Linked DNA regions of Homo sapiens: region 1 is linked to region 2. The links come from fine-mapping of genetic effects on plasma protein levels. A gene starts in region 2. The other region holds a variant in brackets. All regions are shown on one strand. Distances are between the middles of the regions.

What was found. PIP is the chance, under the fine-mapping model, that this variant and not a neighbour inherited with it causes the effect. Sun 2018 read protein levels with aptamers (SomaScan).
Region 1: its variant is fine-mapped to the plasma level of the CFHR5 protein (Sun 2018, PIP 0.95).

Annotation. Positions count from the first base shown.
Region 1 is chr1:196,332,159-196,337,551 of GRCh38, reverse strand. KCNT2 (potassium sodium-activated channel subfamily T member 2) reads left to right here. Exons shown (of 28, transcript NM_198503.5): 17 at 3,492-3,705. Among named protein-coding and RNA genes, the nearest start is that of LINC01724, 250 kb to the right of the region's middle. The variant A/G (reference allele first, on the strand shown) is at 2,793.
Region 2 is chr1:196,975,161-196,980,553 of GRCh38, reverse strand. It overlaps CFHR5 (complement factor H related 5), which reads right to left and starts at 2,998. Exons shown (of 10, transcript NM_030787.4): 1 at 2,832-2,998. The coding sequence starts at 2,889.

The DNA of each region.
Region 1 (5,393 bases), 640 kb after region 2:
GATGAGGACGAACAGGTAGAAAGAGGCCAGATCCTGTTGGGCTTATTTAAGTCCATATGGGATTGCAGCTTCTACTCTCAGTGAAGTGGGAATTATTGCAAGGCTTTATGCAGAGCCATTGACCTGATCTCACCTATGCTGAGTGCTCAACTCAGGCTGCTGTTGAACATAGATGGTTTGGAGCAAGGATCAGACTATTTTCAAGTGGAAGTGGTAAGAAGGAGAAAATTCTGCATGTACTTTGAGGATAATCAGGATTCCTTACAAAATGAAATTGAACTGTGAGAAAAAGAGAAGTGTGAAGAAACATAAGGTTTTCGGATTAAGCAACTAGGGAAAGAGAATGGCCATAAATTTAGAGGAAAGGCTAGGGGGAATGCAGGTTTTGCGGGGGTGAAGGGAAGATAAAGAGTATTTTGGAACACCTTGAAGATGTCTAACAGGAAGTTGTATGTAAGAGTCTAGATTTCAGGAGAGAGAGAGAGATAGGCTGAAAAAGTAAATTTTGTATTTCTGATCTTATGTATATATTTAAAGCCATAAGACCAAATGAAGTCTTTGAGGAAATGAGTACAGGCAGGAAAAAATAAAAGACAAAGCTCTGCAGTATACTAAGATTAAGTATCAGGGGGATGAGAAGAAACCAGCAAAGGAGACCAAAGAGGAGCTACTGGCAGGCTAGTAGGAAAACCCAATGAGTGAGGTGTCCTGGAATCCAAGTGAGCTAAGTGCATTAAGACAACACCATGTAAAGCCATGTCTGATAGGTCATGGCTGAAAGCCAAGTACTGATAGGTCGTAACATAAGGACTGAGAAGTGTCAATTGACTTTAGCAATGCAATGATCATTGTTCACCCTCATAAGAGCTGTTTCAATGGAGTGGTGGTGGACAATGCTAGATTGGACTACGTTTGGGAAAGAATGGTAGAAGATAAATTAGAAACAGTAGGTCTGGACAGTTCTTAAAACGTCTGACTGCAAAACGGAGAAAAGAAATGGATTTGTAGCTTGTGTTGAAAGTACAAGCAAGTAAGGAAGGCAGAGAGATTGAGGGTTTGTATAATAGATTGTATATAATTATAGGCCATGGAACTTAATTTAAGTAAGGAAGTGAAAAGATGTATTTTGGTTAGAAAAGACTGAAAGGAGAGTGGATTAATCGATTCTAATTCCAGTGAAAATCAAGAGGGAAAGAGCTGGAAAGCCAAGGTACAGGTGTCAAAGAGTGAGATGCCAGAAGGAGAGATGATGTGCAGCAAGTAATAATTACAAAAGCTAAGGTGTGGCCATGAGAGTGAAGGACTGAAGAGTGATAGTAGAAAAAGCCATTACTAGAGAAGAGGACAAGGAGTTGAGTCTGGAATGTTGGAAGGATCATCTATGTGTATGGTGAAACTGCCAAAAATCAGGACAGACAATGTGGAGAGACTATTAATGATGCAAGAGCTAAACTGTCTGGGTGTATTCAGTTGCATAGGTATAGATATGGGGAACATGGAGAGTTTAACTTAAGCAGGGTTCTATTTTGTCAAGAGGGTGGAATGAAGCAAAAATGTATCAAGGGATCCAGGGGTATATGCAAGAAAATAATCATAATGCTTAAACATGGAATTTAAGATAGTTAAGAAGAGAAGAGAGAGCATCAAGGGAATGAGAGAGACAAACTCTGGTATCATCAGTAGAATTGAAGTTCCAGCATGGTAAAATCATAGCTAGTGTTAGGAAATCAGTGAGAGTGACCTGAACAAACAAGAAATAGTGGTGATCAAAGGGTGAATGCATAAAAATGTGTGCAACATTGTTTTTATTGGTTATAACAAGGTCTAAAAAATCACTATGGAAGTGAAGGGCTGAGATAAGGTAAAAATTTCTTCAGTTCATGTTATTATAATGAGGAAGAAGCTTGGAAGGCCAGAGGTTTGAGGAAAGTAGAATTTTAAATAGTCATGCGCTGCATAAATTCAGTCAATGATGGATAGCATATACAATGGTGGTCCCAATAAGATTGTAATACCATGTTTTTACTGTATGTTTTCTATATTGAGATTACCATTGTGTTAGAATTGACTACACCAATCAGTACAGTAACATGCTGTACAGATTTGTAGTCTAGGAGCAGTAGGCTATACCATATAGCCTAGGGGCAGTAGGCTATACCTATACCATATAGCAGTAGGCTATACCATATAGCCTATGTACCATATAGCCTAGGATAGTAGGCTACCTCATCTAGGTTTGTGTAAGTATGATGTTTGAATATCTAAGAAATCACCAAATGGTAGATTTCTCAGAACATATCCCCCTTTTTAAGCAATGCATGACTGTAATTGTTTCAAAGAATGGGACAAAGCAAAGACTAGCAACTTTTAGAAGGATGACCAGGTGCCACTGAGTACATAAATGAAATAAGTAATTATGAAATATGATGCCTTTCATCGTTATTTTCTCCAGAAGGAGAGGAACCTCAATTTTTCATAAATAGATATTAAAATTAATTTTTACATTTCAATAAAATTCACAAAGGGAATTGCTTCTTCTGCCTTCTATTCCTTGAATGCCTCAAGTATTCAATAACCTTAAGCCACTTGGGCTTGGGCTTGCCATTCTTACTGCCTCCAGGTACTTCCATGACTTGTGTGCTCCTTATTGTATTTCAGGTCAAAAATCGAATGTCCTAACTTCACAGTGGCCTTCTCTCCTATCAAATAAAAATTCCATTCCTCTCCCTGCATGCTACTGATTATTGTCTACAATTATCCATTTATTTGTCTACTTGCTACATACAGGTTTC[A/G]TCTTGTAGAAACTTTGTTTGTCTTCTCTACAGATCTCAAGTACCTGGAACAGTGCTCCCCATATGTGGCACTCAATAAATATTCATTTAATACAAAATAAGTATAACATATTAGTAGTTCCGATATTTTAAAAAGTGGTCATAAATCAATTACAAAAAGATAGCTCAATAGAAAAGGGGGCGCTTGAACCTGGGAGGAGGAGTTTGCAGTGAGCCGAGATTGTGCCACTGCACTCCAGCCTGGAGCGAGACTCTGTCTTAAAAAAAAAAAAGAAAGAAAGAAAGAAATAAAAGAAAAAGCAAAGAGGGGAAACACATAATGAAAAATTCACAAAATGGACATGGTCAACAACAAAAGAATAAATTTTAAATAAATATAAATTGAAACATCAGGGTATACTTTTTCACTTTAAGTTTCTATATACTTCAGGATTTTACAAATCTTATGTTTTGTGCCATAGAACAACACTCTGCAAATACACTTTTGTGCAAATAGAGATTTTCTTGTCCAGGAAAATGCCTGTGTGCAAAAGAAATATTTAGCTATCAGAACTAAACTTATACACCACACGCATAAATATATACTCTCTCTATATATATATTTATTGTGTTTATTATATTTCATATTTCATGTAACCTTCAACACTAGTGATCAATATGGCAAACGCCTTGATAAATTTTCATGTTTTATTGTTTTAGGTACTGTGGCTATAGACTTGCAAGATACAAGCTGTAGATCAGCAAGTGGCCCTACCCTGTCTCTTCCTACAGAGGGAAGCAAAGAAATAAGAAGACCTAGCATTGCTCCTGTTTTAGAGGTTGCAGATACATCATCGATTCAAACATGTGATCTTCTAAGTGACCAATCAGAAGATGAAACTACACCAGATGAAGAAATGTCTTCAAACTTAGAGTATGTTCAGATACTCTAAGGTGTAAGATTACTGGGTTTTGTGCTAATGTCCTTAAGTATTTTCTTTACATACCTTCCCAATAGGTAAGGAGCTAATGATCTTTCCTTCTGAACATCCTAGAATCATTCCTATATACTTCTACCAAAACGCACTGCTAGTAGCCAGTATCTCTTTTGACTGCAGAGCATTATAAGCCCTCAAGTTTCTGGCTTCAACATATATTTCCAGTCTCATTTTGCTCTTAATTATCTTTTATCCTCAAGGAAAAAAAAATCAGTGTTCCCAAGATATAAGCTTCATTTTCATAATTGTATGGTTTTTATAGTATATTGTACTTTATACTTTGAATTTACTTTATTGCACATCCATATTGAAGTTCAATCAATTATTCAATGAAATGAAAACACAGCCCCTTCCATTAAGCTTTCCTTACTTATCTCAGTGTTCAGCACTTTCATACACTATTCATTAATTATTTTAAATGTATGAATAAAAGGAGTACTGTTTCCCTTTTCTAGGCTTCCATAATAATAGAACGCCAATCTATATAGTATTAATCACATTGTAGCTTGCAGTAGAGTTTGTTTGCATGTCTTATTCCACATATTAAATTGTCATTCTTCAGGAAAACACAGCAGTCCACAGGCTTGACTGTGGAGTACTAAGGACATTGCTTGCCATGCCAGTTCCACTTTATATTGGTTGTGTACAAGTGACTTTAATTAAACAAACAAACAAAAAAAAAAAAAAACTTGCAGCTGGGCACAGTGGCTCACACTTGTAATCCCAGCACTTTGGAAGGCCGAGATGGCAGGATCATTTGAGGTCAGGAGTTTGAGACAAGCCTGACCAACGTGGTGTGGCTGGTCTCAAACTTTACTAAAAATATAAAAATTAGCTAGGAGTGGTGGTGCGCGCCTGCAATCCTACCTACTTGGAAGGCTGAGACAGGAGAATCACTTGAACGCAGGAGGTGGAGGTTGCAGTAAGCTAAGATCCTGCCACTGCAGTCCAGCCAGGGCGACAGAGTGAGACTCTGTCTTAAAAAAAAAAAAAAAAACTAGCCAATAATTTATTTACCTGTAAACTGAGTGTAATTACTACTTCAGAAAGCTATTAGTGATTAATTGAGATAATGGAGAAAAAGTGTTTATACAAAAACAATGTTTTGTGTAGAGTAAGCGTTCAATTAGTATTAATTACTATTAGTCATATTACGGGTAGTAGTGGCATTGGCAGCATAATCTCTGACATTTCTTCCAGTGTCTTTCATAAAATGTAAATTCAAGTAATGTTGAACTAAGAAGAACTTCAGTGTCATTGAAGCTTGAAAATATTCTTTGTTTAAATTTCTCACACTTAAAAAAATACTGTAAGAAAGGTTGGTGTACCCACAAAACCAAATCTACTCTTCAAAGACATTAATGGTCAAAGTCCTCAAATGTATTTGGAATCTAGGATGGGAACAGGGATAGGTTTGGCAACCAGTGTCTTCACAGGAAACAGTGTTTTGGAGTGCGACTGAAATTCTTTCTTTACACTTCTTAAAAAATTGAGAGGTAAAAGATTTTTTCTTATTTCTAGAAAAACGAAAGAGATGTTGAGTAATTGTAGAGATTACCAACTTCTAAATTTACAAAATTTTACCCTATAATTTTATCTCTTAGCCAACGAACTTTATTTCCTG
Region 2 (5,393 bases):
CGTTTTGGTCAATGACTGATCACTTATATCACAGTGGTCCCATAAGATTATAATGTAGCTGAAAAATTCCTATCAACTGATGACCACCACAACATCATAATCCAATGTATTACTCACATGTTTGTGGCAGTGCTGGTATAAACAAACTTACAGCATTGCCAGTCATATAAACAATAGCACACACAATTATGTATAGTACACAATACTTGATAATGATAATAAATGACCATGGTACTGGTTAATGTATTTAATGTACTATAGTTGTTATCATTATTTTATAGTTCACTTCTTCTACTTATTAAAAAAAAATAACTGTAAAACATCCTCAGGCGGGTCCTTCAGGAACTATTCCAGAAGAAGGCTTTGTTATCATAGGAGAGGACAGCTCCATGCATGTTACTGCCCTAAAGACCTTCTAGTGGAACAAGAGTGAGGAGGAAGACAGTGATACTGATGATCCTGACCCTCCGTAGGCCGAGGTTAATGTGTGTGTTTGTGTCTGCTTTTAACAAAAAGGTGTAGAAGGTAAATAAATAAATAATTTAAAAGATAAAAATCTTACAGAATAAGGATAGAAAGAAAAAATATTTTGTACATCTATACAAGGTGTGTTTTAAGCTAAAACAAAAGAGTTACAAGTTAAAAGATTTTCAGTTGATAAAGTAGAAAGCTTATCATAAATTAATTTATTATTGAAGAAAAGTTTTAAAAATAAATTTAGTCTATCCTGGGTGCACCAGAAGCTCAGTAATTAGCACTAAAGAACTTATCCATGTAACCAAAAACCACCTGCTCCCCCCAAAATATTGAAATAAATATATAAATAAAATAAATTTACCTAGCTCAAGTATTCAGTGTTCATGAAGTTTACAGTAGTGTATGGTAATGTGCTAAGCCTTCATATTTGCACACCACTCACTCAGTGACTTACCCAGAACAACTTTCAGTCCTGCAAACCCTATTGACGGTAAGAGCCCTATACAAGTCTGCCATTCTTAATATTTTATATTGTATTTTTATTGTACCTTTTATATGTTTAGGTAAACACATTCTTACATTTGTGCTACAGTTGCCCACAGTATTCAGTACAGTAACATGCTGTACAGGTTTGCAGTCTAGGAGTGACAGGCCGTATAGCTTAGTTAGGTAGTAGGCTATACAATCTAGGTTTGTGTAAGTACACTCTATGATGTTTGCAGGAGGACGAAATTGCCTATAGACACACTTCTCAGAACGTTTTCCTATCATTAAGTGATGTATGAGTGTACACACACACACACACACACACACACACACAGACAATTACCTATATATAAAACCTTGCAATTTATTTGCCTATTTACATTTTGCTTTTCTTTTAGGACACTCTAAGTAGTAGTGAGGGGTGGGTGGCGTTGTCATATTCTTTCCAGCTTCTTTGCTACAGCATGAAGCACAATATATTGCTTGATTCATGTTTTGCTACTGGAAGCATGCAGTTTTCTATTTGTACAAAAGTGTTGCTTTCGTCTGTTATTTCTGCTGTTTGGCCAGTTTCTAAATAGACACCAAAACAAAAGTGTAATGCACACTTACAGGTCATTTAACACCTAGACAACTTTTAATAGAATTTCACTAAAGTTTATCCTGGGACTGGACTGAAGCTTGAAAGTTTTGTGGGGTTAGGAATTGTCAAAATTCTACATATTATCCTCATAATTTTCACTTATCTTCCTCTGCTTCCACCCCCCTTTAGAAATCCTTGTGTAATGCCATTTGTAACAGATGTTTAAGCCACTTAATAAATATCATAAACACAGACTTAAGAAAAATCAAATACACTCATGCAATCGCACTCTTGTGATTATAGCTCAGTACTAAAAGTGAAAACAAAATAAAATGAATTTTAGGCCCATAGAAATAATGTTTTGCAACATTTGTAAGGGCATATCTTAAAAAGAAAGCATTTTATGGTTCATATTTTTCTCTTATGTCAGGACTGAGAAGAAAGTGTTCAAAAAATTTAAAGATCTGTAAACATTAGAAAGCAGTAAAGCAGTAAAATAAAAACTTTCTGGAAATCAAAGAGTATATAGCACAATGATTGAAACTTCACGTACACACATAGTTTAATCAGTATCCTAGACCTTGTTAGAGATTTTGTTTGCAATCCTTTTGATATAGTGGCTTTAATTTCCACATGAAATAAAATGGGATAGTTTATAATGTTATAAGAATCAGTTTATAGTATTAATAAAGAAGTGATATATTATTTCACTTTTGAAATTTGTGGAAGAGCTCAGAAGAAACAATTTTTTGGCAGTTCACTGGTTTATATATAAAAATAATATTTTCTATTGTTTCATTAAAATATATTTCCCTGTTGAATGATAATTAGGCTGAAATGAGAATTCCTTCATTTTAATAACATTTAAAATGTAAATTATCAAATCTATGAAAATAAAATTCTCAAAACATAATGAAGGTGGCCAAATCTTTTGGGGTTGATTTTTCTAGTCAGTGGCATTGCAGAGTTTATGCAGAATTACACTAATATTTCACCTTGTCATCTTTATTATAGCAGATTTTCTCTCCTTTGATTTCTCTTTACATTATCTATTTGGTGACCATTTACCCTTAGCAAACTAGAGAACGGAGAGAATTAATTTCATTCAATTTTCCTGCTAATTGCATGTTGGAAAATATTTCCAGAAAATAGATGAATATTGTGATACCCCTTCAAATTATCCTCAGCTATTTATTCATTTAAAAATATTTGTATGCATACACACACACAATCAATAAATACATTTGAAAAGGAACTAAAATATTCGGATCTGTTTTCAACTTACCTTCTCCCCCAACAGTGGATACCCATGAGATTAGGATTACACTGAATAAGAGCAACATGCTTGGTAGTCTCAATCGTATATAACTAAAAATACTCCAGTGATGGTGGTGTTGCTTTAAATCTGCTTTCATTAACAGTTACAAGCATGACTTTGAATTTCAATGTACTAAGGGGAAGCTAGTTTAGTAAAGCCCTTTGTGGAAAACATCAAAGTTCATGGAGGGTTGTGTGAAATAAGCAAATAGTATCTAATCAGTGTCTTCACAATAATATTCTCAGCTCGTTATGTAATATTTATTTAAGCAAAATAACTGCTGTTCAATTTCCTTGTTGTAGTCACCGAGTCTCTGAGTTTGGAACAATCAGAAATGGACTGTTTAGAGGAGAGAGGAAGCTCCCCACCGCCGGCCCCCTGGGTTTTTTTTTTTTTTCTAGCCAAGGGTTCAGCTGTTTCAAAAGGCAAGCAAGTGCAAGTCATCAGTCCTCATCTTAATACAACAATATCACTTTTGTAGTTGTAAATTCCCTTTTAAAACTGGCACTAAGAATTAGGTACCTTCTTAACAGTTTTAATATTTCATAAACTATAAAAGGTCTAATCAAGAATTATTTTTGCTGGCCGGGCGCAATGGCTCAAGCCTGTAATCCCAGCACTTTGGGAGGCCGAGGCGGGTGGATCACAAGGTCAGGAGATCGAGACCATCCTGGCTAACACGGTGAAACCCGTCTCTACTGAAAAATACAAAAAAAATTTAGCCAGGCGTGGTGGCGGGCGCCTGTAGTCCCAGCTACTCGGGAGGCTGAGGCAGGAGAATGGCGTAAAACCGGGAGGCAGAGCTTGCCGTGAGTGGAGATCGCGCCACTGCACTCCAGCCTGGGCGACAGAGCGAGACTCTGTCTCAAAAAAAAAAAAAAAAAAAAAAAGAATAATTTTTGCCAAGTAACGTTTCCTGAAATGTTTGAAGAACAGAATTATAATTCAAAATCATTTTGTTCAGGTGGGACTTCGAGAATGGCTATGTGAGGGTCTTGGTATATTCACTCCCAACCAAAAGGCAGCAATAAAACTGGATAAAAATTTAAAAGTAACCATTGGTTGTCTCTGGAAATTGGCCAAACAGCATAATGTTGGGAAATATTTTTTCCAGAAAGTCTCCATAAAATTCAGTAAAAGAGAGCGGATGCTTTCATCCACCTCTGTCTCGCAGCCCAATTCCGTGGCTCAGAAGTTGAACCCTGGATGGGCAGGCAGGCTATGTGGACTGGAAGCTCTGCTCCCCTGCTGGAGAAGAGTGACTTTATAGCTTGGAAAGGTCCATGCCCGAGGATCCTATTGAATACAAAGAGATTACAGTGGGAAACAATCAGAGAAGACTAGAGGATACTAGCTGAAGCAAGCAACAAAGTGCCCAGCCTGAGAGAAATTTAACATTTAATGGGGAAATTTACAGAAACAGCCTAATGATCTCACTAAGAGGAAACTTACTTATGGTGGTTCAGAAGTCAATGGGAATGCACATAGCTATGTCCAATCAAGAAACCAGAGAAGTCCCTGTGAGCTATTAGTAGTCTCCACTATTGATTCTAGTCTATCTAAACCTTGTCATTTCCAATTACTACACTACCTAAAGTATCTAAATATTAAGCATCACACTCTAGACCATTTCAACAATCTTTTTAGCTCACTTACTCTACTAAATTTGTTCCAAACATTCAATGACCCTGACACTTTTTCACTATTCTCTTCCCTTCATTTTCTCTCTTCCCACCACATCTAAATTAGATTCCATGGCTCATCACTGTCAGTCAGTCCCTTGCACACACTCTCCTGCCCATTCGTTCCTTTCTATCTGTAATCCAAGTCTTAGAAAACCTCAATCCTTTGCAAATAAATTCTCTACCTGCCCTGTGCCTGAATTGAAGCAGCAGAGTGTGTCTACAAGAAAAACAAAGGCAACTGTGCTGACTTGCCTTGCTTTAAATTAATGAACACGGTCCTAAATAATTTCCACACTGCTTTTCCCCTCTCCTGTTTTCATTATCTCCCTCCTTAACCACCAATCCTCACTTTGTGCTTTGCTAATGACTTCATTTATTTTTTCATCTAGATATAGAATCAATCAGAAGAAAACTACCTGCTGTTCACACGCATCCTTTTCTGCATTGTCTCTTGCTTCACTGGATGTTGATCTTTACTCCTATCTTGTTATGGTCTCTACCAGATTTGATCCCATCTTTTCTGTGCAAGGATTTTGCTCTTTCAATTATTCCTTCTCACCTGTATCATTAATTTCTCCATTTTCCAAATTATTTCCACCAATATGCAAACATACCAAACATCTTTCATCATGAAGAGCAACAACAAAAGCTCAAAAATTGTTCATAGAACCCAAATCTCTTTCTAGTAATCTAATTCACTTCTCATTTTATAATACGATGACTCCAATGTTATCTACAATCTCTACTTTAATTCATTTTTTCATTCCCAACACTACGCTTAAACCCCTCTTGTAACAGTCACCAATGCCTTCTTCAATCTAATCAAATCCATTGGTCAAAACTG